6 separate regions of the Homo sapiens genome follow, and all the other regions are reported to be linked to region 1. The links are microRNA targets in miRTarBase. Many come from high-throughput screens and were not tested one by one. Region 1 holds a microRNA gene; each other region holds the end of a gene's coding sequence.
Evidence for each region. Region 1 holds the annotated microRNA hsa-miR-5693 (GCAGUGGCUCUGAAAUGAACUC, at 1,706-1,727, opposite strand). A microRNA usually pairs through its seed, bases 2 to 8, with sites in the 3' UTR of a target mRNA and lowers its output. Matches are read on the target gene's strand: a 7mer-m8 pairs with bases 2 to 8, a 7mer-A1 pairs with bases 2 to 7 and ends in A, and an 8mer does both.

Region 2: the mRNA of ALG1 is a reported target of hsa-miR-5693. Seed matches in the 3' UTR shown: 7mer-m8 at 2,228-2,234.
Region 3: miRTarBase lists SEC23B as a target of hsa-miR-5693. The part of its 3' UTR that is shown has no 7-base or 8-base seed match.
Region 4: miRTarBase lists EMC2 as a target of hsa-miR-5693. Seed matches in the 3' UTR shown: 8mer at 2,224-2,231.
Region 5: miRTarBase lists FHL2 as a target of hsa-miR-5693. The part of its 3' UTR that is shown has no 7-base or 8-base seed match.
Region 6: miRTarBase lists TSPAN31 as a target of hsa-miR-5693. Seed matches in the 3' UTR shown: 7mer-A1 at 2,894-2,900 and 7mer-m8 at 886-892.

Annotation. Positions count from the first base shown.
Region 1 is chr13:51,346,871-51,351,950 of GRCh38, forward strand. It overlaps MIR5693 (microRNA 5693), which reads right to left and starts at 1,769; the gene lies at 1,697-1,769. It overlaps SERPINE3 (serpin family E member 3), which reads left to right. Exons shown (of 10, transcript NM_001386375.1): 5 at 155-364; 6 at 1,343-1,541. It also overlaps a transcript of INTS6 not described here.
Region 2 is chr16:5,084,065-5,088,481 of GRCh38, forward strand. ALG1 (ALG1 chitobiosyldiphosphodolichol beta-mannosyltransferase) reads left to right here. Exons shown (of 13, transcript NM_019109.5): 13 at 686-3,315. The coding sequence ends at 817. EEF2KMT (eukaryotic elongation factor 2 lysine methyltransferase) reads right to left here. Exons shown (of 8, transcript NM_201400.4): 8 at 220-1,668. The coding sequence ends at 1,568. Among named protein-coding and RNA genes, the nearest start is that of EEF2KMT, 12 kb to the right of the region's middle. RefSeq lists an enhancer at 164-1,076.
Region 3 is chr20:18,560,351-18,565,430 of GRCh38, reverse strand. It overlaps SEC23B (SEC23 homolog B, COPII component), which reads right to left. Exons shown (of 20, transcript NM_006363.6): 20 at 4,016-4,780. The coding sequence ends at 4,691. Among named protein-coding and RNA genes, the nearest start is that of SMIM26, 4.5 kb to the left of the region's middle.
Region 4 is chr8:108,486,221-108,491,300 of GRCh38, forward strand. EMC2 (ER membrane protein complex subunit 2) reads left to right here. Exons shown (of 11, transcript NM_014673.5): 11 at 292-2,976. The coding sequence ends at 378. Among named protein-coding and RNA genes, the nearest start is that of EMC2, 45 kb to the left of the region's middle.
Region 5 is chr2:105,356,761-105,361,840 of GRCh38, forward strand. It overlaps FHL2 (four and a half LIM domains 2), which reads right to left. Exons shown (of 7, transcript NM_001318895.3): 7 at 4,066-4,674. The coding sequence ends at 4,523. It also overlaps a transcript of C2orf49 not described here. Among named protein-coding and RNA genes, the nearest start is that of C2orf49, 22 kb to the left of the region's middle.
Region 6 is chr12:57,745,923-57,751,002 of GRCh38, reverse strand. It overlaps TSPAN31 (tetraspanin 31), which reads right to left. Exons shown (of 6, transcript NM_005981.5): 3 at 4,747-4,827; 4 at 4,283-4,414; 5 at 3,872-3,985; 6 at 784-3,787. The coding sequence ends at 3,713. It overlaps CDK4 (cyclin dependent kinase 4), which reads left to right. Exons shown (of 8, transcript NM_000075.4): 4 at 1-80; 5 at 238-347; 6 at 1,499-1,549; 7 at 1,686-1,821; 8 at 2,386-3,276. The coding sequence ends at 2,478. It overlaps MIR6759 (microRNA 6759), which reads left to right and starts at 2,321; the gene lies at 2,321-2,385.

The DNA.
Region 1 (5,080 bases):
AAAAGATATTGTAAGATGAAGAGAGAGACCACCTTAAGCAAAAAGACCTGCATTTTCGCATTTTAACTCTGCACTCCTTGTCCGCACACACACTGGGTTCGGTTCAGTTTCAATGCACATTTAACCCATGGCCACCTTGCTTTCCTGCTTGCAGGTGGGGGCCCCAGTGAGGGCCCTGGTGGCTGGCCGTGGGAGCAAGTCAGTGCAGCATTTGCTCAGCTTGTGCTTGTGAGCACCATGTCCTTCCAAGGCACTTGGCGAAAGAGATTCTCCTCCACAGACACACAGATCCTGCCTTTCACCTGTGCCTATGGCCTCGTCCTTCAGGTCCCCATGATGCACCAAACGACCGAGGTCAACTACGGTGAGCTCTGCCCCTGCTGGTTTGTCTAAAGGGAGAGGAAGCCTGGGCCTGAGGGCAGGAGAGAGGAGGCCAGGTCCCTGCTCCTAAGGGATCGGGATGTGTTTCCGCAGGGTCCATCTGCTGGACTGGGCATGCATGGCGGAAGGAAAGACTAAGGTGCCCGGAGACTTTAGAGAGGAGTGTGGGACAGTGTGCTCTGACAGGACAGTGAGGACACAGATGTGGAAGAGAAACTCAGTTTCATGCCTGACATTTCCTTCTGCACTAGTAGAGTTTGGACCAAACTGCCACCCTGGCAGGCACAATAGGCCGGGATTGAATGGCTGCTCCTTTAAGATCGGGTACAGTAGTACCCTGTACCCTTATCCATGATTTTGCTTTTTTGAGGTTTCAGTTATCCGCATCAGAAAATATTAAATGGAAAATTTCACAAATAATTCTCAAGTTTTAAACTGCACGCCCTTCTGAATAGTGTGGTGAAATTTCCTGACGTCCTTCTCTGTTCCACCTGAGATATGAACCATCCCTTTGTCCAGCATCCCCAGGCTGTCTACAGTATGCCCGTTGGTCACTTAGTAGCCATCTCAGTCATCAGATCGAGAAAACATAGTATATGCAGGGCTCGTTACCATCCACAGGTTCAGGCCTCTACTGGGGTTCTTGGAGCATATCTGCCAAGGATAAGGGGGCACTACTCTATGTGGTTCTGCATGTGCCATCGTCCCCCCCCCCATACCCAGTCCTAGAGAACCTCTAACTCTGGTCCTGTGAGGGTATCTTAAAGACTCTAGGTCTAGGATTTTTATAAAATGACCATATCGCCCAACAGTCTTTGGCCTGAAACCGCCTCCTGAGGGTGAGGTGGATGCTCGGTTTTATTGTTTCCAGTCCTCTGAGCCAGCCTCTCTCAGGGTCCGACACTGGTTCATTCTCCTGGCTCCTGGGACAGAGCTGACCTCTGATCCACTGTACCCTCAGGTCAGTTCCAGGACACTGCAGGCCATCAGGTGGGGGTGCTGGAGCTTCCTTACCTGGGAAGTGCAGTGAGTCTGTTCCTGGTGCTGCCCCGTGACAAAGACACCCCCCTGAGCCACATCGAGCCACACCTCACAGCCAGCACCATCCACCTCTGGACCACCAGCCTGAGGAGAGCCAGGATGGATGTGTTCCTGCCCAGGTGAGCAGCTGAGTCCCCCTCACAGGTGCTGTGCAGCCAGCAGTCAGAAGAGCGTGGATTTGCACACAGGTGGTCTGCCTCCAGGGTCTGTGCTTAGCCACTGGGATGACTTGTTTAATATGTATCCCCAGAAGTTAGACCAAGAGGAAGTGACCCTAGAGTTTGAGTTCATTTCAGAGCCACTGCTGGCTAGCTCACAGCACAGACTGAAATGAACTAACTTCCCAGAGTCTTTCCAAGACAAGATATTCTGCCTTCACTGGGCTGGAATGGAGCCCCCCAGGACCCCCTGATCCAGCCCTAGGCTGGACCAGTTTTTGGAAAGGAAATGCTCGTGGTTCCCTTGTAGGAACGTTGCCCAAATCTTATCCCATCCTAAGAGTATACAACTGTCATTTTTCCAAAACCAAAGAGATAAGATGACTTACGTAATTGAGCAAGTACAGATAAAATTCTGATCAGACGCCAAATTAAGGCATAAAATTTTGACACTTTAAGTCTCTGTGCAGAAGGTTCTCATTCTTTCTAAATGGAGGTGAACTCTCCTTTAAGAAGACCCAATAGGTACAAATACAAATCAAAAAGTGAAGTGGTGGCATTCTATGTTGCTTTTTCAAAACAAAATCTATTAGCAAAACTCATAACTTTACAAAAAGACTCCTCTTAGGGCTTCTTTAAATGATGAGCTTCTGTGATGTATTTGAAATCAGAGTAAATTTATAACCATTTTTTGACCAGCATTAAGCAAGGAATGTTGTCCAGTAGCCACTAGATGCCTTGGCCTCTCTCCACTGCCTGGGCTTCCAGTAGGCAAAGGCAAAGTCCTTGGCAGTACTCCCTTGAGGAGTTAAAAGTAAATCTATGCACTAGAAGGAAAAAATACAAAGAGAGACCCAGTAAGTTAAGGGCCAAGGTCTAAAGTGAGATCTGGCATAACCCAGGGCAAAAGGTGCACTTAACTCTAAGGTAAAGTGTATCTCTCAAAACTAAATATTTGGACCCCAAACCAAAACCCAAATACTGGATATTTCAACAGATCTCTCAGGGAGGGAGCAGAAGCAACCCTAATCTTCCTATTATATTTGAGAGAAACTCAGCAAGGGAAGGAAGAGCAGCGTTCCGTGTCAAAAGTAGAGAGAAAAAGGAGGCTGGTGCGAGAATTCGCCACAACCTTTTTGGGTTTAAGAGACAGATGGTGGGACTCATCCTCGAGCAGTTCTTCCCTGGAAGAGACCCCGGGGAAATTCCCAGCTCCACTGAGAACTCTCCACCGTCCTGATTCTGCTTTTAGGAGTCTCAAACCCTCAAGCAGTTTGAAAACTGAAAAACACTGGCAGGCAGGGAAGGCAAGGCAAGGCAGAAATCTTAGTAACACAACTATTAGTTAGCACTTAACCTCATTCTGATAATTTTTTTTAAATCTCCTTAAGACTACCAAGACTGCTGTCCAAGGAGGATAGAGGTTTTTAGGAAAATGAAGTTATTTCACAAGTAAAACTAACCAAGTTTTTTTTGTTTGTTTTTAAGCTAGCTTTAAATCCTTTGGGGAACAAAACAAAAAAAGTAAAAACTCTCTTAGGTCTAGATTTAGGTATAAACTTTGGATCACGGTAGACACAAAGTCAGCTTTTAGGCAGGGATTTACCTCTCATTCTCTCAAATCACTCATTCTTCTTTTAGTATGACTTGCTCTGCAGTCAGCAGGCATTTTTCGTTTAACAAGAGCAAAAAAATTTTGCACACTGTGGGTAGCAATGCAAAATTGTGTGACTATGAGATGTGCTTTCAGGTTAGACATCACCAAGCAGTGCACTAGTAGATTCTGGACGAATTATGGTGTCTAGCTTCCAAAGTAACCTTTTATTTATAAATAAATAAAAAAAGTGCATAGGGACTGTTAATCTTCATGAGGGACGCTTAGCATACTAAAGGAATAATCAAGAAAACCAAGAATGTGTTAAGGGTTGTTTATAACCACAATCATATGATGTCCCACAAGAAAGACTAATAATGCCAAATATGTATGTAATGAATAAAACATTTGATTATTAGGTCAACATAGAAGGCTGAGCATGAGCATGTTTTGATATTAGATATAATATATATCTTCTTAAAATCCACCAGATCCCACATATTCAAAATGAGTTTTGCCCTTCCTCCCAGGAGCTGCTGATTATCATGGTGTGTGGTTTATGCTTTTCTAGGAGTGTTTCTTTTTTAAAAAATCAAGATATAATTCACATATTATAAAATTCACCATTTTAAAGTACACAATTCAGAGGTTTTCAGTATGTTCACAAAGTTGTGCAACCATCACTACTAATTCCAGAACCTTTTCATCACCTCAAAAAGAAACCCCATATCCATTAGCAGTCACTCCCAGCTCCCCTCCCCACCTCCCAGCAACCTCTGATCTATTTGCTCTCAATAGATTTGCCTATTCGAGAATTTCATGTAAGTGAAATTATACAATTACATATTGTACAATTATACAATATGTGGCCTTTTGTGTCTGGCTTCTTTGCATAATATTTTCAAGGTTCATAGTAGCATGAATCAATACTATCTTCCTTTTTATGACTGAATAATATTCCATTGTATTGATATAGTACATTTTGTTTACCTATTCATCAATTTATAGATATTTGAGTGCCTAGACACATTTTGGCTTGTTTTAACTTCTTGGCCACCAGAAACAATCAAGTGCACATTTTTTTGTGTATATATATTTTCAATTATCTTGGATATACACCTAAGAATGCAATTACTAGGTCATGTGGTAACCCTACATTTTACATTTTGAAGAACTATCAAACTGTTTTCCAAGTCACTGCACCATTTTACATTCCTACCAGTAATGTGTGTGGAATCCAGTTTCTCCACATCCTTGTCAACACTTGTTAATGACCATCTTTTTATTTTAGCCATTCTAGTTGGTGTGAAGTAGTATCTCATTGTGGACTTCATTTGCATTTCCCTAATGACTAATGAGGTAGAGCATCTTTTCATGTACTTGGAGAAATGTCTTTTTTGTAGAAATGTCTATTTCAGAGGTTTTTCCCATATTTAAATTGGTTGTCTTTTTATTATTGAGTTGTAATAGTTCTTTATTCTGGATACTAGTACCTTAACAGATATATGATTTGTAAATACTTTGTCATTCTGTGGTTTTTCTTTTCACTTCTCAATGGTGTCCTTTGAAGCACAAAAGTTGTTAATTTGGATGAAGCTCAATTAATCTATGTTTTCTTTTGTTTCTTGCGCTTTCGATGCCATATTATATTGAATAGACACCACTGTCTAGTTAGGGTCACAAAAATTTAGGTGTATGTTTTTTTTCCAAGAACTTTATAGGCTTAGCTCTTACATTTAGGTCTTTAATCCATTTTGAATTAATTATTGTATATAGTATGAGGTAGGGATTCAACTTCATTCTTTTGTGTGTATCTATCCCTTTGTCCCAATATCATTTGTTAAAATGATTTTTCTTTCCTCCACTGAATTTTCTTGGCATCTTTGTCAAAATCAATTGCCCATAA
Region 2 (4,417 bases), not on the chromosome of region 1:
CGGGCAAAGGGAGCTTCTGGGACCAGCCTTGAAAGATGGGTGGAATTCTGCAAAGGTTACTTGTTTCTTATTGCAAAAAGTAATACATCATTCTTGCCAACAGAATGATTGGCAGGATTTTCAGTAAAGGTCCAGGTCGGAAGTCGTTTAGACTGGGTTCCCCAGTCTCTGTCAGAACCATGGTACTCTGTTGGGGTGTGAAAGTAGCCACAGATCATCTGTAGATTAAGGGGTGTGGCTTTGTTCCAATAAAACTTTATTTACAAACACAGGCTGTGGGCTGGATTTGGCCTGCAGGCTGTAGTTTGTGATCCTTGATTCAGACAGTTTAGCAAGGCTGCAAAGAACACCGACACCCCCTTGTTACCCACAGATGGGTGAGACTGCGTTGGCCAGAGGCCGAGAGGAGGGTGCTCACAGGGGAATGGGCAGCACGTAGAGGCCGGGAGGTGCTCCAGGGCACCAAGTGTGGGAAAGTGGGACATGCGGGGAAGTTTCCAGAAACTGTGATGTCAAGTTGGAGGCGGAGTGCTGCTGGGGTGTGAAGGGTCTCGAGTCCAAGTGAGGGAGTTAGGGACTTGGGAGGGGTTGTTGTTGGGTCGGGGACCTGGGGTCAGCCAGGTGGTGACCTGGGATGGGGTGGGGACAGGCAATGAGGTAAGCTCTGCTCTTTATTTTTTTGCAGATGCTTTTCTCAAACTTTCCTGATCCTGCGGGCAAGCTAAACCAGTTCCGGAAGAACCTGCGGGAGTCGCAGCAGCTCCGATGGGATGAGAGCTGGGTGCAGACTGTGCTCCCTTTGGTTATGGACACATAACTCCTGGGCCAGAGGCTAAAACCCCAGGACCCCTGCTGTCCTTCCCGCAGCTTCTTCTTGGAGTCTCAGGGCAAACCCTTTCGAGCAGCACCTCCCAGTGGCCAGAAGCTGAAATGACAGCAGTGGTACTGCCTGGTAAAAGAATTGGTTCTGTGACCCGGGAAGCTTTGGTTGGCCTTGATTTCTTCTCTGGAGGCTTGGAAACGCTTCCTCTCTTCTTCTGTTCTTCACGCCCCATGCCCCTGCTAGCGTATTACTGTTCTGTGACTTCCCTGTGACCTCTGCAGAACTCCTCATCCTGCGTTTGGTCTCCAGGTGTCCCCTTTCTGCCGTGTTCCTAACATTTTGATTCCTGTCTTGAAAAAAGCACCTGCTGCACCGTAAGCCCAGGGATGTGGCAGCTGCAGTGGGCTTGGCTTTGTGAGGAACTGAGTGTGTCCACGTTGGGGGAACATCATACTTGATACACACGTTTTTATTTGCACAAAGAAAATGCTATTTTTGGAGCCAGAATTTTCATGTCTGATTTATGGTGATTTTCTTAAGAACCAGAACTGCTGGCAGAAAGGGGGCACCCACACGCTTAGATAGCCGATGTCTTATTAGAGGGCAGTTTGTGGTTCCTGATTTGGAAATTAACATTCTCCAAACATTCCAGTCCAATGAAAGTTTTATCCGCTTTCCCATATAAAAATTCTTCCCATGAGAGTGACTTGATTCTCACAATCCCGTTGGAGTCGTGTGTGAGTCCTACAGGGTGAGATTCAGCATTGCCATCTCCAAGTGCTCTTCGTAGGGAAACAGTTTCTGCTCATGACGAGGTTCCACTTCCCATCTGATCCCGGCCCGGCCTGGAAACAGAGCACATGTGTTTGAGGATGGCGGTGTTTGGGGACAGGACATGAGGGTATTGTGTGGGGCTGCTAGGACAGGCCTGGCGGGGTAGGGGGGTGTCCAAGTCAGTTTACTTGGTTCACAGGTTCCCAGGCCCACCCAGGTGCCTAGAATTGGCCTCCAGGATGGGACCAGAAAGCTGGTTTTGCATAGAAATGGCTAGCAGCAGGCACCGTGCCGCTGTCCACTCTCTGCCTGTGTCTGCCCCAGCACTTGGCACAGCGGGACAGAAGCAGAGATCTGAATAGTCAACCCACTCTTCACAAAGCTTAGAAAGCGGCCGGGCACAGTGGCTCATGCCTGTAATCCCAACACTTTGGGAGGCCAAGGCGGGCGGATCACTTGAGGTCAGGAGTTCGAGACCAGCCTGGCCAACATGGTGAAATCCCATCTCTACAAAAATACAGAAATTAGCCAGGCATGATGGCGAGTGCCTGTAATCCCAGCTACTTGGGAGGCTGAGGTGGGAGAATTGCTTGAACCCAGGAGGTGGAGGTTGCAGTGAGCTGAGATTGTGCCACTGCACTCCAGCCTGAGTGACAGGGTGAGACTAAGTCTCAAAAAAAAAAAAAAAAAACCACACGCACCACACACACACCCACACACACACACAGCTTAGAAGGGGCTGCTGTTCTCATAAGCACAGATGTCTGAAGAGCCGTTAGCCAGAATGATTCTTTTTTTTTGTTTTGAGATATGATCTTGTTCTGTCACCCAGGCTGGAGTGCAGTGGCACAGTCATTGCTCACTACAGCCTCGACTCCTGGGCTCTAGCAATCCTCCCACTTCCTGAGTAGCTGGGATGACAGGTGCGTGCCACCATGCCAGTAATTTTTTTATTTTGTAGAGATGGGGTCCTGAACGCATGGCCTCAAGTGATGCTCCTGCCTCAGCCTCTTTTATTATTTGTTTTTAGACGAAGTTTTACTCTGTTCCCCAGGCTGGAGTGCAGTGGCACAATCTCAGCTCACTGCAACGCCTCCCAGGTTCAAGTGATTCTCCTGCCTCAGTCTCCCGAGTAGCTTTGACTATAGGCGTGCACCACCACGCCTGGCTAATTTTTGTGTTTTTAGTAGAGATGGGGTTTCACCATGTGGGCCAGGCTGGTCTTGAACTCGACCTCCCGTGATCTGCTCACCTCAGCCTCCCAAAGCCTCAGCCTCTTACAGTGTTGGGATTACAGGCGTGAGACACTGTGACCCGGGACGATTTTCAATCACAGTTTTTTGTTACGAGTGGAAAATGCGTATTTATAAGAATGAAGTAGTACAGACATGAATGTGTAGAAATCTCTATAATCCTGCCATCCAAGGATGGCACCTGTTAATGTGTATATCAGGGATGTCCAATCTTTTGGCCTCCCTGTGCCACACTGGAAGAAGAAGAATCGCCTTGGGCCACGCATAAAATACACTAACACTAGCAATACCTGATGAGCTAAAAGAAAAAAAATCACAAAAAAACCTCGTACTGTTTGAAGAAAGTTTACAGATTTGCGTTGGGCCGCAAGTTGGACAAGACTGCTATATGTATATTCTAGGTTTTCCCCTATAGGTATACTTATGTGAAAATGATTATTGTGATAAATTTTGTTTTGAGATGAAGTCTCGCTATGTTGCTCAAGGTGGCCACAAACTCCTGGGCTTAAGCCATCCTCCCGCGTCAGCCTCCTGAGGAGTTGGGAATATAGGTACTCATAACCATGTGTGGGTGATTATTATTAGTTTTTAAACAAAAATGGGGTTGGGCGCAGTAGCTCACGCCCGTATTCCTAACACTTTGGGAGGCTGAGGCGGCAGATCACTTGAGGTCAGGAGTTCAAGACCAGCCTGGCCAACATGGCGAAACCTCAACTCTACAAACAATACAAAAAATAGCCAGGTGTGGTAGCACGTGCCTGTAGTCCCAGCTACTCAGGAGGCTGAGATGGGAGGATAGCTTGAACCTGGGAGGTGGGAGGTTGCAGTGGGCCGAGATGGCACCACTGCACTCCAGCCTGGGCAATACAAAGCCAGACTCTGTCTCAAAAAAAAAAAAAAAAAAAAAGGTGGGTGGGGGCTTATACTATGTGTGCTGCTTGGCACTGTTTTTTTCACTTAAAATATATTGCAGGTTTTTTTTCACGTAAGTATCTGAAGAAAGACTTCCTTTTTTTTTTTTTATTTTTTATTTCTTTGCTTTTTTGAGACAGGGTCTTGCTCTGTTGCCCAGGCTGGAGTGCAGTGGTGAGATCAGGGCTCACTGCAGCCTCCATCTCCTGGGCTCAAGCCATCCTCCCACCTCAGCCTCCTGAGTAGCTGGGACTACAGGCGTGTGCAACCACATCTGGCTAGCTTCTGTATGTTTTGTGAAGATGGGGTCCCACTATGTGGCCCAGGTTGGTCTTGAACACCTGGGGTCAAGTAGTCCTCTTGCCTTAGCCTCCTAAAGTGCTGGGATGACAGGCCTGAGCCCTGCGCCCGGCCAGCCTCCTGTGCGAGGTTGTGGGGGGACTCTGTCGTGGAACCCAGTACGTCTTCGTGTGCTGGCTTGTTTGTTGGCTCTGTAGTTAACGGGCTGCCCCACGTGGACAGGCACTGGGTTGTCTGTGTCTCTGTGTGCAGGCAGAGGCTGCTGCATGTGCATCTGTGCACATGGCTGCCAGGAGGGGCTGTGCTCAGGGGGAGCTGGGGCAAAGGCTGGTGGCACTGGGGGGCTTGGGTGTAG
Region 3 (5,080 bases), not on the chromosome of region 1:
CAGCCTGGGTGACAGAGTGAGACTCCTTCTCAAAAAAAAAAAAAAAAAAAAAAAAAAAGAACTACTGATAAATACAACCATACGATGAATCTCAAAATGGATTATGCTAAGTGAAAAAGCAAGCTAGACACCAAAGAAACCAGTCACGAAATTCTAGAAGCAAACTCCAGTGGGAGAAAGCTGATGAGTAGTTGTCTGCAGTAAGGGCATGGAGAGAGGGAAGGGCTAAAAGGGTCTGAGGAGACTTTGAGAGGTGATGGTAATGTTCTGTATGTTGATTATTGTGGTGGTTTCTGTCAAGATTTATCCAATTGTATGCTTTAAATGGGTGCAGTTTATTATATGTGAACTATAGCTCAATAGTTATAGACAAAACAGAAAAATTGGTATTGTTTCAAGCTTGCGTCTCTTCTCATCCTTCTCATCAGCCTTACTCATGATACCTATGTTATATGTTAATAACTCTCAAATCTACTCCAGATTCTCTGAAAGCAAATTCATGTTACTGCCAACCTGCTATGCATCCTCGGCTGCATATTCCACAAGCTCCTGAAACTAAAAAAATGTTCCGAATTGAATTTATCAATGCCACTCCCAACAGGAAACAAACCTTCCCTTTCTCTTCCCTGATTCAGAGAGTGATTGAGAAATTGCCCAAGCCAGGAACTTGGAATCATCTCACCTGACATCCTCTGTCACCTCTGTCTAAATACCCTGTCTCTGTTTAGGCCTCATTTCTCACTTGGATTACAGTCTCCTCTCATCCTTCCCCCTCTGGAGTGTCTTTCAAACCTTAAATTATCATTTCACCCTCTGCCTAAGATAAGTCAGAGGCTTGCCCTACCTTCAAGATGGAGTTCAATACCCACAAAAATTAACAATTAATAAAAAGATGGAGTTCAGAGTCCTCACTGGGCATACTGGGCTCAGTGGCCCCTTCTCATGATAGCTGTTTTCCACACAGCACTATCACCCTGCCACCCCCTACATTCTGTGGAAAAACGTCACTGGTACCCTAAGGTGGGACCTGCATGGCCATGTCATACCATGCAGTTCCCTCAGCTCCTTAACTCACTGACACTAGAGAGAACCGCAGAGTTAGCTGGGTCTATCACACAGTCTTTTTTCTGTTAATTTGAAACAGAAAAGCCAAAGAGGATGTTTTGGCCTTAATCTGTACAGACAACTTTATGTATTCTTCTATATGATGTGTTAAAAATTATATCCAAAACTAAAAATATTCTTGGAAAACGCACAGAAAAATGTAAATGTTCAACTTTTTTTTTTTTTTTTTTTTTTGAGATGAAGTCTCCCTCTGTCACCCAGGCTGGAGTATAGTGGCGTGACCTCAGCTCACTGCAACCTCCACCTCCGAGGTTCAAGTGATTCTCCTGCCTCAGCTTCCCAAGTAGCTGGGATTACAGGTGCCCACCACCACTCCTGGCTAATTTTTTAATATTTTTAGTAGAGATGGGGTTTCACCATGTTGGCCAGGCTGGTTTTGAACTCCTGACCTCAAGTGATCTGCCCACCTCAGCCTCCCAAAGTGCTAGGATTACAGGTGTGAGCCACCGCACCTGGCCAATGTTCAACATTTTAAGATAGGAAACTCTGCTAGAATTCTGCTAGAATGTAGGGCAGAGACAAAAAGAAATACAATAACTTGTATTCGAATACAAATTCAAAACAGAGTATTGCAATCAATCCAGCTGTTCCAACATCCAATTAATAGGAGCTTCCAGCTTCATTTTCCTACATAGCACTCATTACCTTCTAATGTATCATTTACTTCATTTCTTTTTTGTTTTTTATTTTTTTGAGACGGAGTCTCGTTCTGTTGCCCAGGCTGGAGTGCAGTGGCACAATCTCACTGCAACCTCCATCTCCTGGGTTCAAACAATTTGTCCCTGCCTCAGCCTCCCAAGTAGCTGGGATTACAGGTGTGCACCACCATGCCTGGCTAATTTTTGTATTTTTAATAGAGAAAGGGTTTCGCCATGTTGGCCAGGCTGGTCTCAAACTCCTGACCTCAGGTGATCCGCCCACTTCGGCCTCCCAAAGTGCTGGGATTACAGGCATGAGCCACCACGCCCGGCCATATCATTTACTTCTAACATTGTTATTGTTGGTCTTCCCTAACTAACACATAAGCTCTATGAAAACAGGAATTTTTGTTTTATTGGCAGTATTCCCAATGCCTAGAAGACTACTCCATAGACAACAAGTACCGGATAGTTATTTGTTGAACGAATGAAAGAATGACTCCAAAGTTCTGAGATTATCTTGGGCCTATACTTTTTAGACCCAGTGGGTTAGTCTGTCTTTGGATCTCTGTAATGGAACACCCGAGACTGGGTAATTTATTTTAAAAAGAGGTTTACGGTTTATGCTTATGGCTTACGGTTCTGTAGGCTGTACAGGACGCATGGTGCCAGCATCTGCTTCTGGTGAAGGCCTCAGGAAGCTTACAATCAGGGCAGAAGGTGAAGAGGTAGCCCGATGTACCACATGGCAAGAACGAGAGGAAGAGGTGGGGGAGGTAACACTTTAAAAAAATTTTTTTTGAGACAGTCTCGCTCTGTCCCCCAGGGAGTGCAGTGGTGCGATCTCGGCTCACTGCAACCTCTGCCTCCTGGGTTCAAGCCATTCTCATGCCTCGGCCTCCTGAGTAGCTGGGATTACAGGCGCAAGCCACCACACCCGGCTAATTTTTGTATTTTTAGTAGAGATGGGGTTTCACCATGTTGGCCAGGCTGGTCTCAAACTCCTGACCTCAGGTGATCTGCCCGCCTCAGCCTCCCTAAGTGCTGGGATTATAGGCATGAGCCACTGTGCCCAGCCAACACACTTTTAAACAATCATACCTCATTTGAACCCAGGACAAGAACTCACTCATTTCTGTGAGGATGGCACCAAGCCATTCATGAAGGATCCAGCGGTATGACCCAAACTCCTCCTACCAGGCCCCACCTCCAATCCTGGGGATTACATTTCAATGACGGACTTGGAGGGGACAAATATCCAAACTATATTACCTGGCAAAGCTATAAAGTGTGAAGACAGAATAGATTTGCAGATATGCTAAGATGCAGTGAGTTCTCCCCAAGTACTCCTTTTAGTAAAAGTCATTTGAGATTGCAAAATGCCTTATGGAATAAAGGGAAGAGTGGAACTAACCCGAGATTCCAAACAGAAGAAATTCCTGGATGACAGTTGTGCAGTAGGTCAAAGTTATTGGCCCCCCTTAAAAGGGGACATCAGTGGCCTCCAAAGAAGAAAAAAATGGACTTCATTCAGTAGAATAGGCTAGAATTTCTTAGTAAATAGAAAGCAAAATATTTCTTCTCTCAGAAAGCAAACAAAATTTAGAAATTCTGGGGAAAACCACAGCAAATCTAAGAAATCATAATCCAAATAGGGATCAAACCAACATGCGGCATGATGGAATGTAAGAAAGTAACTCTGATTCTGTCCTTTGGAATGTTTTCCTACAAGTGACATAGGGACTGACTGGGACACTAGCACCCTAGAGAAAAATGTCATCCTACCTGGCTTGGACTGGAACAATATTTACATCATCACGGCTGTGTAAATGCTTCTTAGGAGCTTTCAGCTTTGACAATCAACTTAGTGACAAAAAATATGATAATAGGCCAGAATATAATCTCTTTTTTTTCCTGAAACAGGGTCTTGCTCTCCCACCCAGGCTGGAGTGCAGTGGCATGATGAGAGCCCACTGCAACCTTGAACTCCTGGGCTCAAGTGATCCTCCTGCCTTAGCCTCCCAAGTAGCTAGGACTACAGTCACACACCACCATGGCCCAGTAACTTTTAAAATTTTTTGTAGAGACAGTCTCGCTATGTTGCCCAGGCTGGTCTTAAACTCCTGGCCTCAAGTGAGTCTCCTGCATTGGCCTCCTAAATTTAGCACTGGGATTACAGGTGTGAGCCACTGTATCTGACCCAGAATATACATTTTACCAATCTTGATAATATAAAAATAAAAATACAAAAATGACCAAAGGTATATTAATATATTGATTCTTTGAAAATGAGAATTGAGACATGGGCTAAAATTAAATACATCAACAACAAAAATCTTGTAAGGAGAGGTTAAAAGCAGTTATCTTCAAAAAGTAGGTCTGAGTTTATAGAGTGGAGGTAACTTATTTGTTATGAGCTCTTTAGGATAAGGTATATTTGTTTCATTTTGATCCTGCATATACATTACTTTAATTATGAGAATTAGGTTCAGGAAACACCTCTTAAGGAAGTCACTTAAAACACATACACACTCACACAGAGACCTCAGGAAATCACATTTGTATTAGCAATATTTTAGCCAGTACTTTCTGCATCTAGATTTATTTCCTTTATGATCATTAAGATTCTCACCTAAACAAGCTGCCAAAATACATTACCTCTGATTTTATTTAGATTCTAAAAGTTAGGATACAAAAAGCACATAAACATCTACAAGTACCAAAACATTTATGACCTTATAATTTTATAGTGCAAGAAAAAGGACAAAGACAGGAATACAAATAAATTATAATCTAAAGAGTTACATATAAAATGTCCTTGATTATTTGTTAAAATCTGCTAGAAAAGTAACAGGAATGTTATCAAGCCTTTCTAGACATTTTGAACACAATCTGACACCGTTGCATTTCCTGGTTGTATCCTCAGCTTAACAGGCACTGGAGACAGCCAGCTTCTTCAAATGGTCCATGAACACCTGCAGGCTAACATCATCAGTTAGGATGGGTGCTCCAGTTTCCTGAAATGTAATGATAAAGATTAGTTGGCAGATATCTTAGAAGCTGATTAGAATTCATGAGCTGTCAAGCACCTTCCCTCAGAACATTCACAGGTGTTGTCCCCTCTGCTACGAGTACTCCCATCACCCCATCCTCTGCCTCACGAACAACTTCTTTTGACTAAAGCACAATTTCCTCACAAAATCCTTTCCTGGTATGCCGAGATCAGGCCACCACCGCCTGCTAGTTTTGAGCATCAGGCGTTTTACTTTACCCTCTTCTCCATAGTCCTGATGAAGTACCCAGGGTCTAGCTCCCCA
Region 4 (5,080 bases), not on the chromosome of region 1:
AATAAGATAGTTTCAAATACATGATTTTATGGGTTATTATATTATGTAAACACTTAAACTGGCCAAGTGTGCAGTGAACTCTCTGTACACTTCAGCTGAAGGTAAGACCTTAAAGGAAAATGTCCTTAATACTCAAATTTTATTCTTATTGAAAAAGCAAAGAATATATTTGATTTCCTACTAGTGATAAAATAGTCAATGTTAAGTTTCATTAACAGTGTGAAGATTGTCATTTTTAACCTGCCACTGAAATTGAGCCTAATTGAGCTTTTTTTTTTTTTTTTTAATTAGTTTGCAGGTCGAAGTAAGAAGGAAACCAAATATTCTCTTAAGGCTGTCGAAGACATGTTGGAAACATTGCAGATCACCCAGTCTTAAGGTTTCAAAAACTCTTTGACATTAGATTTCACAACTGCACAATTGAACTTATTGGCCTGTAACTTATTTACTAAATGCTCAGTGCTATTTATATACTACAGTAATTTTCTGTTAAGAAGGCAGTTGTAAAGAATGTGTTTATATAAACCTAAAAATGCCTTTTACTGCTAAGTGGGGAGATGGGGGAAATCCATGGAAGAGAGATTTAAGACTTATTGATTGTACATCAGTCTCTTCATATCACATATACATGTATATATATAAAACTCTAATGTAGTATAACCTTGTTAAATAAACCATGATGATTTATTAAACTTGCATATGAAGATTCTAACTTCATTTTGTTATACTCACAGTGGATATATTGTTTAAGAACTCAGTTTCTAGTTAACTCCTTACTGGTGATAGCAAAGTCACAGCATATGTAGCTGACCGAAGCAGATTATTTTGACTTTGTTTATATTGTCGAATTGGATTTTGCTGTACATTCCAGTGGGCTATTTGAATTGTTTTATCTGCTGTAATATCCTTCTGATGAATCTTGCTTAAAATATGTCATTCTCCAAAGTTCAGCAATATTTCTTTGTAAAATTTTTGTTTTGATATAGGACATAATTGAGATTTTTACATATAAAATGCCTTAAGATAAATATGTGTTACGACACTTTAACTTTTATGCAAGTTATATTTATTGAATCCTTTAATAGTAAATTACATGAAAGAATATTAAAGAATCATAAAGAGTAGGGATTAAAGGGGTTGTAGTTATTTTTAATTTTGAAAAAAATAAGAAAATTAAAACTATCCTTAGAAACAAAAATGTTAAAATTTTCCTATTCTATCATTACCTTAGTTAGAATTTTTTATTTTTCTCTTTTCATAATAAACAACCATTATGCTACCTTCAACAGTATTTGACATGTTTCAACAAAATAGAAGAGACTTGAAAGTTAAATTTCATTTAGACACAAATCAGTTTTTAAAATAGCAACTGTTCACCGCAAATATTTATGGTATTTGTTTATAATAAATATATTTAAATTTATTTTTACTAAAAATATACAGAGGCATCTACAGACTTGTCATTGCTGCTTTGGACAAGTGGGGATTGTGGAGGAATTGACAATCTAGAAGTGTTTAGAAAGAAAAGTATTGTCAATATCAGCTTCTTTTAACCTTTTGAATAGTTCTGCTAATAAATTATTCTCCATATCTAGTCTAATCTTTCATATTACAGTCATTTTCGTTTTATTCTGCCACGAGTAATAGGCAGCTGATTAATATATTCTGTGAAAGAACTCTTCTCATCTGAAGGTAATTCTCTACTAATCTTTATTACCACAAAGATCCCGTCTTTGTACACATGAAATTAGTAACTGCATTTTCAACATGATGAACCATTTGAAATTTACATTTTCTGTAAAGAAAATAGTGCCTGCACGTTGTTTCACTACCTTTTCCCCTTCAAACCTCCTCCCCGTCAGTCACTGGATTAGTGTTTACTCTAGCAATTATATTTGTGTAATAAGTAATTCAGTGCCTCTTATAGCTGTCTGCCTTAGTTTCACTTTTTTTTTTTTTTTTTTGAGACAGTCTCGTTCTGTCACCCAGGCTGGAGTGCAGTGACGTGATCGCAGCTCACTGCAACCTCCTCCCGGGTTCAAGCGATTCTTGTGCCTCAGCCTCTGAGTAGCTGGGACTACAGGCATGTGCCACCATGCCTGGCTAATTTTGTATTTTTAGTAGAGATGGGGTTTCACCATGTTGGCCAGGCTGGTCTGAAACTCCTGGCCTCAAGTGATCTACCCGCCTCAGCCTCCCGAAATGCTGGGATTACAGGCATGAGCCACTGAGCCTGGCCAGTATCACTTTATTTTTTCAAAATTTTAATAACTTCTTTCCAAGATTTTATATTTGTTAAGCACATTGCCAATCCTTAGTTATTTATAAACTTCAACTTAAATGTACTGATAATCCCATTACAGCAGGCAGTTGCCTACAGCTATTACCTTTATTTCTTCTTTAGCAGTACCTTAGTTTGATCTGATAGTGGCAAGGATCCCTCTTCCTCAAAGAGATTAGGACCTTACCCCAACTCCAGAGGTTGCACCTTCATTGATCTGAAACAGAAGTGGTAGTTTAATTCTGTATAGTCTGATTAGTACGAGGCAGAACTTTTTGCAGTGAAGGAAATCAACCATCCATTCTGTCTCTCTATTGTGGTAGCTACTAACCATATGTGATATTGAGTACTTGATATGTGACTACTGCAATTGAGAAATTGAATGAAATGAACAGAACCCTACTGAGAAGGGCTTTCCTTTCAAATTAAAAAATCAGAGCTTTGTGTGGTAACAGTCATTGCCTCTTTCTCCTCTTTCTGGCCAACAGCATGCCTAAAGGTGCAGCTGCCATCAAACAACCATGAAACAGCAAATGTGAGAATGAAAGTTACATTTCAGAGATAGAACTGAAGGAGGATTAAGGGGATCCTGGGTCCCTGATATGGCATTGTTGAACACCCAAATCAAGATGAGCAATTGCCAAACTCCCCAATTATTAAATGAGAAAAAATAAACTCCAGATTGTTTAAGACACTGTTTGGTTTCCTGTTACTTTAGCCATGTATGTTTCTGACTAATATATCTGCTTATCTACTCTTCAACATTTTTTAAGTGTAAAACTCTTATTTTAGACATGTCAGGGATGCTATTTCAGAATCTAATCATTTAAAGCAAGGAGATAATTCCATATAACGAAAGAAGTAATGTCTTAGTGCAGCTCAGCTCCTAGCATTCTAAGCCAACAGAGGTGAAAAGGGGACATATTTACACAGCTTAACCATAAAAATAATACTGATTTGGGGGCACAAGAGGATGTAGAGAAAAATATAAAGGGAAGACCAGTATTTTAGTATGCTGCAAGCATATACTTCAACTTTTTATTGACAAATATTTCAATTAATCTTTTTGTCTTATATACTGTAGCCCACATATCATCAAAGTAACTTCATTTTAATTCATTTCATAGAACCATAGGATTTTAGACAGGACTTTGGAGATGATTTTGTTGTACTTCATTTTAAGATGAGGATATCTGAGGTTCAGATAAATTAACCTCTTGTGTTACAGAGCATGGACCAGACCCAGGATGTCAGGGGTTTCCAAGTCAGCATTTTTTCTGGTATCCTCTGCTGCATCTGGCTATCTTGTGATGTTCTAATTTTAGAGTGACAAAAATGAGAACCAGTTATATGCAAGGATCATAGCTTGTTAGCAGATCAGGGATTATAATTCAGATGTTCTGATTTGTAAAACAATTTTTAATTAAATAAAAAGGTAAATTATATTTTAATTTAAATTGTGTTTAAATTATTTAAGATGTTATTTCATTTACAGTAAATATGAGAACGATTTCAAAATATTTAGAATATAATATAATGCCATTTTGCTCCCTCCCCCTCTGCCCCCATCGTTAAAACTCTTGCTGTTTTCCATTTATTGGCTCTTAACATGGCCTTTGAGGGTCTATATAGTATCAGAATCAAGGAGAGAATTTAGATTTCTTTAATTGTAAATGATGTCCTTCCACTTTCCCACACTTTGAATTCAGGTACACTTAAAGTCCATGAAGTTGTTATACTTCCTTCTTCCACAAACATTCAGCATCTACAAAATAATATATGATGAAAGACTAAATGCGTTCCTCTTAAGATTAGGAACAAGATAAGGATATGCACACTCACCACTCCTATTCAGTGTAGTACTTGATATCCAGTGCAATAATATAAGAAAAGGGGATAAAAGGCACAGAGATTGGAAATGAAAAAATTAACTTTATATTTGCATTTAACATTATTTTCTACATACAAAGTTCTAAGAAATCTCCAAGAACTTACAAGAACTAGTGAATTTAGTAAGATCACAGAATACAAGATCAACCACACAAAAATCAAATTGTATTTCTATATGCTAATACCATTTACAATTTCAAAATGTAATACTAAGTATAAATCCAACAAAACACCTACAGGACCTTGATGAAGAGTCAAACTCTAAAATATTGAAGAGATTTATTTTGAGCCAAATATGAGTGACTAATGGGCTGTGACACAGCCCTCAAGAGATCCTGAGAACATGTGCCTAAGGTGATTGGGTTACAACTTGGCTTTATACATTCTAGAGAGACGTAAGACATCAATCAATACAGGTAACATGTACATTGATTTAGCTTAGGAGAGTGGGACAACTGGAAGTGGGGACTTCCAGGTCATAGACAAATCCAAAGATTTTCTGATTGGGAGTCGGTTATTATTGATAGATACTGGTGTCTGGGATATGATAAGGGGTTGTGGAAACCAAGGTTTTATGCAGATGAATCTTCCAGGTAGCAGTCTTCAGAGAGATAATAGATTGTAAATGTCTAGACTTAAAGAGTCTGAAACATAACCATTTATATGGATTGGAAGACAATATATTAACTAAGTTGCCCCCAAGTTGATTTATGGGTTTAATACAAGTCCTATAAAAATCCCAGAAGGATTCTTTGTTGAATGATTCTGATTCTAAAGAATCGGAATAAAGCTCATTCTAAAATACATTAAAAAGCAAAGGAACTAGAATATCCTAAGCAATTTGAAAACAATGTAGTTGGAGGAATCACACTACCAGATATTAAGACACATAAGTACAGTAATCGGGAC
Region 5 (5,080 bases), not on the chromosome of region 1:
GCTATATTATTTTACATCTAGCCAGAGTTTTCTCATTATCTTTGGCATTCAGCATTTTGAATGTAATGTGTCTGGGTATGGTCTCTGCATTTATCTTACTTTGAGTTTATTGAGCTTCTTGAATATGTAGATTAATATTTTTCATCAAATTTGGGGCCTTTTTCAACCATTAACTCTTTTTTTCTTTTTCTTTTTTAAGAAGGTCTCACTATGTTGTACAGGCTGGAGTGCAGTGGCTGTTCACAGGTGCTGTTTTCTCACACTGCAGCCTCAAACTCCTAGACTCAAGCAATTCTCTCACCTCAGCCTCCTGAGTAGCTGGGACAACAGGCGCATGCCACTGCACCTGACTAGTCATGAACTCTGAAAAAATATTTTCTCCTGTTCTTTTTTTCTCTCTCCTAGCCTTCTAGTCCTTCCATTACACATATGTTGGTATGCTTAATGGTTTCTCACATTTCTCTGAGGCTCTTTTAATTTCTCTTCACTCTTTTTTCTGTTTTTCAGATTGTATAATTTCTGTTGTTCCGTCTTCAAGTTCACTGGTTTTCTTCTCCTAACTCAAATCTACTACTGAGCCCCTCTAGTGAATTTTTCATTTCATTTAGTATACTTTTCAACTTCAGAATTCCATTTGATTTATTAAAAATAATTTTTATCTCTTTATTGGTTTGTTTGGTGAGTAAAGTCATCTCTTGGTATCTGTGGGGGATTAATTCCAGGACCCCCTACAAATACCAAACTCCATGGATGCTCAAGTCTCATATAAAATGGCATAGAATTTGCATATAACCTATTCACATCATTCTGTATACTTTAAATAAATCTCTAGATTACTTATAATAATACCTAATACAATGCTTACACATCACTTCATTTGCATGGATTCAACATAGTACTCAGCATGTGGAAGATCCAAGTTTTGCTTTTTGGAACTGTGTCAACTTTTTTTTTTTTTTCCTAAATACTTTTGATCCACAGTTGGTTGAATCCACAGATGAGGAATCCATGGATATGGAGGAACAACTGTAATTGTTCCTTTACCTTCCTTTTTTAAATATGATTTCCTTTAGTTCTTTGAACAAACACATTTATGTGTTCAGCCAGTGTTTGGTCAGAGGTTCTGCTTAAGCACTTTGAGCTAATAAGATTTCTGCTCTTTGCTGATGGATCTGTGTATGCCTTAGAGAATGCTTTCAAGTTTGTTTCACATCTGATTGCTCCTGAGTGGATACAGCCCTGTCCATACATACTTCCCGAACCTCAAGGATAAACCAGATTCCAGGAGGGCTCTTCTTGGCTATCTCTTTCTCTGGTTTTCTGTGTTAAACTTCTGGCTGGTCTGTCATTTTGCTTTTTGCTACTAATAGCATGGAGTTACCAGCCCCTTCCTTAATGGCTCACTGGTAAGATGTCTTATTGTTTTTGACAATCCCCTTAGGCAAAGATTTCTCGTTCTCCGTACCAAATACCAGTCCCCTTGGGCATAACTGCTGGGTTACCAGTCTCAGAGCCTGGATCTCCTCTGGGGGCTGGACAGCAGCCTGCTTCTCCAGGACTGACATCCCTTCTCTGTGAGTGGGTTGATAGCCGCTGGTCTTCTCAGATTGCCCCTCCCAATGTGGAGCCTCCGCACTAAGCAGGCTAGGGTAGGGGCAATTGGAGCTCTACGATTCTCAGCCTGTCGCACCTGGGGCAAAGCCCTAGACTGGTAGCTGGAGGAAGAGAGACCCCTTAATTTTTGGCTGCATTGGTCCAGAATAGAGTTTGTCACATGAAGCTGGGGAGTGGGGATGGGATAGGATGAGGCTGTGGCTCAAATGCCACAGACTCACTGTTCTTTCTAAGACTTAGTAGTGGATTTTCCTGAATGAATGTTTATTTGTTGTATGCTTCTGGGGAAATTTTCAGAGACTTTGTGTTGTGTGGTTTATATACAAGTAATTTCCTTCAGTAGGAAGAGGGTCGGTCAGCTAAGCCCTGCAAACCACTATCTGTAAAGTCCTGTCAGTCAATGCTTTTAGCCTTGGCTGGGCTGCTTGGAGTCTGGCCTAAGTATACACGGTTCAGTTGTCAGCCAGAAATTTCTAAGTTCATGCGACGAACTTGGGGCTCTCCTTTTCAGGATTTTCTTCCTCACTTTCCAGAGGCTGTTTGTCCCGAACTCTGGCCTCTGGTTCCTCAGGCCAGTAAGACTGCAGGTTTCCTAACAGAGTTTTAGATCCCTGGCGGGGGCCTGCCATTGGATAAAAGGCCGAAACAGGAAAATCACCCAGTGTCGTTCTCTTCTTCCAAGTGTCTACTGCCCTCCAATATCTGCCTGCTTTGGATCGTGCTCCAGTGTTCTTAACAATTAAATAAATATTTTGTCCAGAATGACTGTTAATTTGGAGGAGAATTAGTCCAATTGGAGCTATTTACTAGAAGTGGAATTCCCCCTAACCATTAATTTTAGAATGGGTAATTTAAGGTTGGGAGAGTCTATGGTTTTAATGAGGAACAAGTAAGATGTTCCAAAATGAAATTTGGAGTGCTTTTACTTTTATATTATGAAGTAGAAAACAGCAAAACAACTAACAAAGGATGAAATTATTCTTTTTAAGCAAAACCTCAAGTCAACTATAAAACCAAAAGACTCATTCCAGACATTATCAAACATTCTAACAGTGACTAACACTCAGATTAAGAAACTGATTTCACATATGCTCAGCATATATCAGACTTGATTTCCACCAAATTTTTCTGTTGCTCAGCCTATCATTTTATTATATTGCATTGTCTTAGAAAACTAAGGACAAAAAGGTCACTGATGCTCCCATTCTAAAGAGAACTGTGCAATGTTCTATCCCATACATTGGCTCCGTGCTTCCCAACTGTATACTGCTATCTGAGATTATTCCACAGACTACTGCCACACTAGTAGCTCAGAATGTTATTTTTACTGTAATGACTGTGTGTCTCTCCTGCTTTACTGCCCTTTTCAGAAACACTGAAGGCTCCCAGTGTGCCCTCAGTTGCGAGGGTGTTGAGAACATAAAGATGAACAGGATGTCGTCTCTGGCCTCAAGTTGCTTATGTCCTTGTGCAATCTTTCACTTTATGGAAGTCGGTGTAAGATGTGGATCCATAACACTGGGACAGAGCCGATAAGCTCTGCCAAGAAAAATGACCTGAAAATTGGCTTCACTGTCAGTTTATGTTACTGTGTCAAATGCAGAGGATTACATTCCAAGAGAAAGAGTATGGGAAAGACAGAGAAGGTAGCTGGGTGCGGTGGCTCATGCCTATAATCCCAGCACTTTGGGGGACCGAGGCAGGTGGATCACCTGAGGTCAGGAGTTCAAGACCAGCCTAACATGGTGAAACCCCATCTCTACTAAAAATACAAAAATTAGCCGGGCATAATGGTGGGTGCCTGTAATCCCAGCTACTCAGGAGGCTGAGGGCAGGAGAATCGCTTGAACGCGGGAAGTGGAGGTTGCAGTGAGCTGAGATTGTGCCATTGCACTTTAGCCTGGGCGACAGAGCGAGACTCTGTCTCAAAAAAAAAAAAAAAAAAGGGAGAGAAGGTAGCAAGGAAGAGGTGCCTGGTGCTGACTGAAGGCTTTTTTTTTTTGAGACGGAGTCTCTTTGTCTTCCAGGCTGGAGTTCAGTGGTGCCATCTCAGCTCACTGCAAGCTCTGCCTCCCGGGTTCATGCCATTCTCCTGCCTCAGCCTCCCGAGTAGCTGGGACTACAGGCGCTCACCACCACACCCGGCTAATTTTTTGTATTTTTCGTAGAGACGGGGTTTCACCATGTTAGCCAGGATGGTCTTGATCTCCTGACCTCATGATCCACCCGCCTTGGCCTCCCAAAGTGCTGGGATTACAGGCGTGAGCCACCGTGCCCAGCCGAAGGCTTCCTTTAAAGGGTGTGATGCTGTTCCAGTTGGCAATGCCCCAGGCCATTGGAACATTGGAACTGCACTTCATACAGTGACCATGGGACCATGCAATAAAGTGTTACTTAGACTCAGTGCCTCGACCTGTAATCATGATTTCACACTCTGTGCCTGGCAAAAGATTCTGTTCTGAATAACTTTATTGCAAGTCACATAATCTTGGTTTAGACTTGACGCAACGGGAGGTTACAGAGCTGTAAATAACAACTGGTCATTACCTTATTGAGTTTAGAAAACTTTCAAGTTCGTGACATATGTTAATTGCACTTAAATAGACAGTGAGAGAAAGATTTATAAAGGCATCATTCAAAAGGATTTTTACATTTGGGTGTGCCTTACTCGATTACAAAAATTTCAAACCATCTTCCCACCTAGGGCCTAGGGCGAGTTTTCTCTTTCCCTGGGACTGAACTATCACAAAGCACTAAAGGGTTTAAGCAAACGTGAGTATCACTGAAAAGCACTAGAAGAAAGTCTCAATGTGGCTGGAAGAAACCAGAAGGCAAGATTGCCTGGGTGAGAAAGAAAACATAAAAATCTGTGTGTGAGATCACAAGCAGCAACTTCTCTGTGTTGAATTCAGATGTCTTTCCCACAGTCGGGGCACAGGATGTCGTCCCTCTCTGTGAGGAAGCCACGCCCCACCAGTGAGAGGGAGCACTTCTTACAGTTAAAGCAGTCGTTATGCCACTGCCGTTCCTCAAAGGAGATGTATTTTGTGCCACCAAGTCCTGTTAACAGAGAGAAAATAATACCGGATGAAGAAAGTTAGAATCAGGCAACTGGGACTGAAGAAGGAATTCTGGTTTGATCCATTTCAAAGTTTGGATTGTGTAATATGGATAATGTGAATTTCTAGTGACTGGGTGTTGGGAATCCATATGTAAATCAGATTCTATGCACAGCCTGGAGGATCTCGTGAATATCAGAAGAGATATATAAACTGGTTCCAAAACGATGGGATAAGTGCGATCAAAGAATGCTGACTGTGTATTTGTTATGTGTTTTCCCACAAAATGAAACTCCATGAGAAGAGGGAGCAGATTTCTCTTATGTCTTCACTAGGTGCCTCACGTTGCCTGGTGCTCAAATTTTTATGACTTAATGATTGAAGCAGTGAAGGGAGTGTAGAAGAGG
Region 6 (5,080 bases), not on the chromosome of region 1:
TGACAAGTGGTGGAACAGTCAAGCTGGCTGACTTTGGCCTGGCCAGAATCTACAGCTACCAGATGGCACTTACACCCGTGGTCAGTAGAAAGATGGTACCAAAATGGGTTCTGGTTGGGAGTAGGAGAGTGATTGCCCGTAGCAATTGAGAAGTCATGTGCTTCATGTGTTCAGTCAAGCAAGTTGTGTTTCATGGTAACCCATGGGGTCCCCATCCATTCTTCCTATTCCCTTTAGGTTGTTACACTCTGGTACCGAGCTCCCGAAGTTCTTCTGCAGTCCACATATGCAACACCTGTGGACATGTGGAGTGTTGGCTGTATCTTTGCAGAGATGTTTCGTCGAAAGTATGGGACCCACATACCCTGGACTACCTTGAATTCCCCAAATCGCTTGTTCATAAACCACATCCATACCTTGCCCATTCTTTTTTTTTGAGACCAGGGCTTGCTGTGTTGCCCAGGCTGGATTGCAATGGCATGATCACAGCTCACTGCAGCTTCAACCTCCTGGGCTCAAGTGATCCTCCCATCTCAGCTTCCCAACTAGCTGACACTACAGGCACGCACCTCCATGCTTGGCTAGTTTGTTAATATTTTTATAGAGATGGGGTCTCAGTATATTGCCCAGGCTGGTCTTGAACTCTTGCACTCAAGCAATCCTCCCACCCCTACCTCCCAAAGTAGCATAAGCTACTGCATCTGGCCCCATTCTTTTACTTGCGTACTACTAACTTGCCCATAGCAGAAAGCTCTGAAATGTTCTGGAATTAGGAACTTCATATCCCTTTATTCTCTTTATTTTTTATTTATTTATTTATTTATTTATTTATTTATTTATTTATTTATTGAGATAAGGTTTCACTCTGTCACCCAGGCTGGAGTGCAGTGGCCCAATTACAGCTCACTGTAGCCTCTACCTCCTGGGCTAAAGCAATCCTCCCATCTCAGCCTCTTGAGTAGCTGAGACTACAGGTGCACGCCACCATGACTGGCTTTTTTTTTTTTTAGATGGAGTCTTGCTCTGTCGCCAGGCTGGAGTGCAGTAGTGCGATCTCTGCTCACTGCAACCTCCACCTCCCAGATTCAAGCAATTCTCTTGACTCAGCCTCCCAAGTAGCTGGGACCACAGGTGCACGCCACCATGCTCAGCTAATTTTTGTACTTTTAGTAATGACAGGGTTTCACCATGTTGGCCAGGATGGTCTCGATCTCTTGACCTCATGATCCACCCACATCAGACTCCCAAAGTGCTAGGATTACAGGCGTGAGCCGCTGCACCTGGCATTTCTTTTTTTTTAAAAAAAGAGACAAGGTCTTGCTTGCCCAGGCTGATCTAGAACTCCTGGGCTCAAGCAGTCCTCTCACCTCAGCATCCCAAAGTGCTGGAATTGTTGGCCTTTATTCCCTATACTTCCTATTTTGAGCCACTAAGCAGTAACCATTCAACTAAGATATCTTTGAAAATGACTGCTACCTTATATCCCTTCTCACCTTAGGCCTCTCTTCTGTGGAAACTCTGAAGCCGACCAGTTGGGCAAAATCTTTGAGTAAGTGACCAACATGGGAGAAAAAGATTTTCTATTCTGAGTCCTCTTTCTGCTGAACCCAGGATGGCAACTGGCTCTGCCCATGGGGATGGGAACTGGAGGACCCTCCTGACCAGAGTTCTCCTGTCCCCCACAGCCTGATTGGGCTGCCTCCAGAGGATGACTGGCCTCGAGATGTATCCCTGCCCCGTGGAGCCTTTCCCCCCAGAGGGCCCCGCCCAGTGCAGTCGGTGGTACCTGAGATGGAGGAGTCGGGAGCACAGCTGCTGCTGGTACTGGAGATGGCTGTGGGCACAGGGAAAGAAATAGAGACTGGGGAAAGAAATAGAGCAGTATGCAGGGCCCTGGCCACTGTGGTTAATGAAACTTGGTTGGTAGATGGGCTGTAGTTTTTATTACAGCTGCAAATAGCCACCCACAGAGAAGGATATAGAAGAGAACCCATCCTGGCTGGGCACGGTGGCTCACGCCTGTAATCCCAGCACTTTGGGAGGCCAAGGTGGGCGTATCACCTGAGGTCAGGAGTTCGAGACCAGCCTGGCCAACATGGTGAAACCTCGTCTCTACTAAAAGTACAAAAATAAGCCGGGGGTGGTGGCACACGCCTGTAATCTCAGCTACTTGGGAGGCTGAGATAGGAGAATCACTTCAACTCAGGAGGCGGAGGTTGCAGTGAGCTGAGATCATACCATTGCACTCCAGCCTGGGTGATAGAGCGAGACTCCGTCTCAAAAAAAAAAAAAAAGAAAAAAGAAGAAAGCTCATCCCAGGTATTGTTGTGGGTGGGCAGAAGTCTGTTTTCTTCATGGTTTTCTGACCTTTGCCTCTCCCCTCAGGAAATGCTGACTTTTAACCCACACAAGCGAATCTCTGCCTTTCGAGCTCTGCAGCACTCTTATCTACATAAGGATGAAGGTAATCCGGAGTGAGCAATGGAGTGGCTGCCATGGAAGGAAGAAAAGCTGCCATTTCCCTTCTGGACACTGAGAGGGCAATCTTTGCCTTTATCTCTGAGGCTATGGAGGGTCCTCCTCCATCTTTCTACAGAGATTACTTTGCTGCCTTAATGACATTCCCCTCCCACCTCTCCTTTTGAGGCTTCTCCTTCTCCTTCCCATTTCTCTACACTAAGGGGTATGTTCCCTCTTGTCCCTTTCCCTACCTTTATATTTGGGGTCCTTTTTTATACAGGAAAAACAAAACAAAGAAATAATGGTCTTTTTTTTTTTTTTAATGTTTCTTCCTCTGTTTGGCTTTGCCATTGTGCGATTTGGAAAAACCACTTGGAAGAAGGGACTTTCCTGCAAAACCTTAAAGACTGGTTAAATTACAGGGCCTAGGAAGTCAGTGGAGCCCCTTGACTGACAAAGCTTAGAAAGGAACTGAAATTGCTTCTTTGAATATGGATTTTAGGCGGGGCGTGGTGGCTCACGCCTATAATCCCAGCACGTTGGGAGGCCAACGCGGGTGGATCACCTGAGGTCAGGAGTTCGAGACCAGCCTGACTAACATGGTGAAACCCTGTCTCTACTAAAAATACAAAATTAGTCAGGCGTGGTGGTGCACACCTGTAATCCCAGCTACTTGGGAGACTGAGGCAGGAGGATCGCTTGAACCCGGGAGGCAGAGGTTGCGGTGAGCCGAGATCATGCCATTGCACTCCAGCCTGGGCAACAGAGCAAGACTCTGTGTCAAAAAAAAAAAAAGAATATAGATTTTTAAATGGCTTTTACTTTTATATTCGCTAAACTTTCTCAAACTGGATCCTGCTTATTACAGGAAAGAGTTCTTGGTTGTTTTCTCCTTGGCCCTATCCCTGATTTACCCTTAGAGCCACACCAGGGTATGTTGAGGTGATCCAGTATATGGACAGAGGAAGGGAAACAGCTAAGAATGACTCCAGCCCCCATCCTATGCACTCACAGAAGCTTCCCATATCCTCTTGGAGAGAGAGGAAGAAAGTTTTTCCTTTTATTCCTTATAGTCTGGCTCCCACTAAAATATGTCAAGGCATAAAGTCTTGCTATTCCATCAATTTTAGAGGATGTGACAAGGGGCCTTTCCTTTTTCTCAAACCAAAACGGTTACAGACCCTAGATATTCCCTAAGGGAGGAAGAGAAAGCTTAGAGAGAGCAGAAGAAAAGTCAGAAGGATCCAAAGTCTCATAGAAAGGCACTGGGGTTGGCTCTAGGATCCTTCTGATTCCGAAATCTCATTGCTAGCCAAACACCAAGGATCTGTAGGAACAAAGGGAGAGAGATAAGTATCAATTAATTCTCAGTCTCAAAAAGGATGTGTGTGAGGGAACTGGAGAATGTTACCTCTGTAAAGCTAAAGAAGAGTCCAACACCCCCTAGGATTTTCAGGGCTTCGTCTGAATGCTTAAGAAACTTTTCTCCACACATCTGGCATGTGGGGCTCTGGCTCTTGCAGATCTGAGGATAAAACGTGAAGAATGCAAAGTTGTGAATGTAAAGTTGCTAGTGACTAATACCTATGCCGAATGTCCCTAGAAACTTTACTGTTATCTGACCAGTGTCCTACAAACTAAAATCCTACTTGGCTAATTCCCCAGCCTCTATCCACCCCCACCTCCCACCAACACAGCCCCAATACAAGAGGGCTTGTAGAGAGAGAAACAATGACATTCAAACTAAATTTGCCAACTTGGGCATTGTCCTTACCCAGTTTCCTACCTCCCCTGGCTGCTGCACCACCCCCAACACACTCACTGCAGTGCAGAAATCATAATCTTGTTGATACAGGGTTGTGAGGTTGAATAAGCCACAACAATCAAAACTTCTTTCCAGTTCATCCCGAGTCTTGTTGCTCATGACCCACCAAGAAGCATTGATGACATCTGTCTGAAAGATATGGGTAGAGGGAAATTAAGTCTCCCTACATCCTGTTATCAGTTCAAGTGCCTCAATTTCCCTAGCCCAGCAAAGGAAGTCAAACAGAAGCATAACGGTGTGCAACAATTATAGACACGATAAATATCTACCTTTTGAGGTTCTCTAGATCATCCTCATGGAAAATTAACCAGACATCCCAGAGGAAGCAAATAGCCCAAGAGGCCAGAAGCAGTGCACCTAAGGATGATCTTTGGGTAGTTGGGGCCAGACTAAGGAAGGAGTTCGAGGTTAAGAGGAAAATTTTAAAAAGCAAGTAAGTACTTGAAAGGGTACTGTCTTACCTGTTTGCTTCGGTTAATAGCCAGACATGAGCAAGAGATTACAAATTGGAAGATGAAGACCAAACCAAGGATGATCATGTACTGAGAGGAAAGGTTATGGAAAAAAGTCCTAGATTCCTTTATGTTTCATCTATAATAACTGTCTGGTCTCATCTGTTCATAGAACTTACACCACCATGTCAAATTGAAAGCAATAAAATCAGCTCTTGTTTCGTAGATTATGGGACAGGGCAGGGCAAGGAGACGTGTCCAAGATCCCTGAGGTCCCCTACCCTTCTAACATCTTCCTTAGATGACAGCCCTCCCAAGCCCCCGGTTGCCCCCATCACTTCAG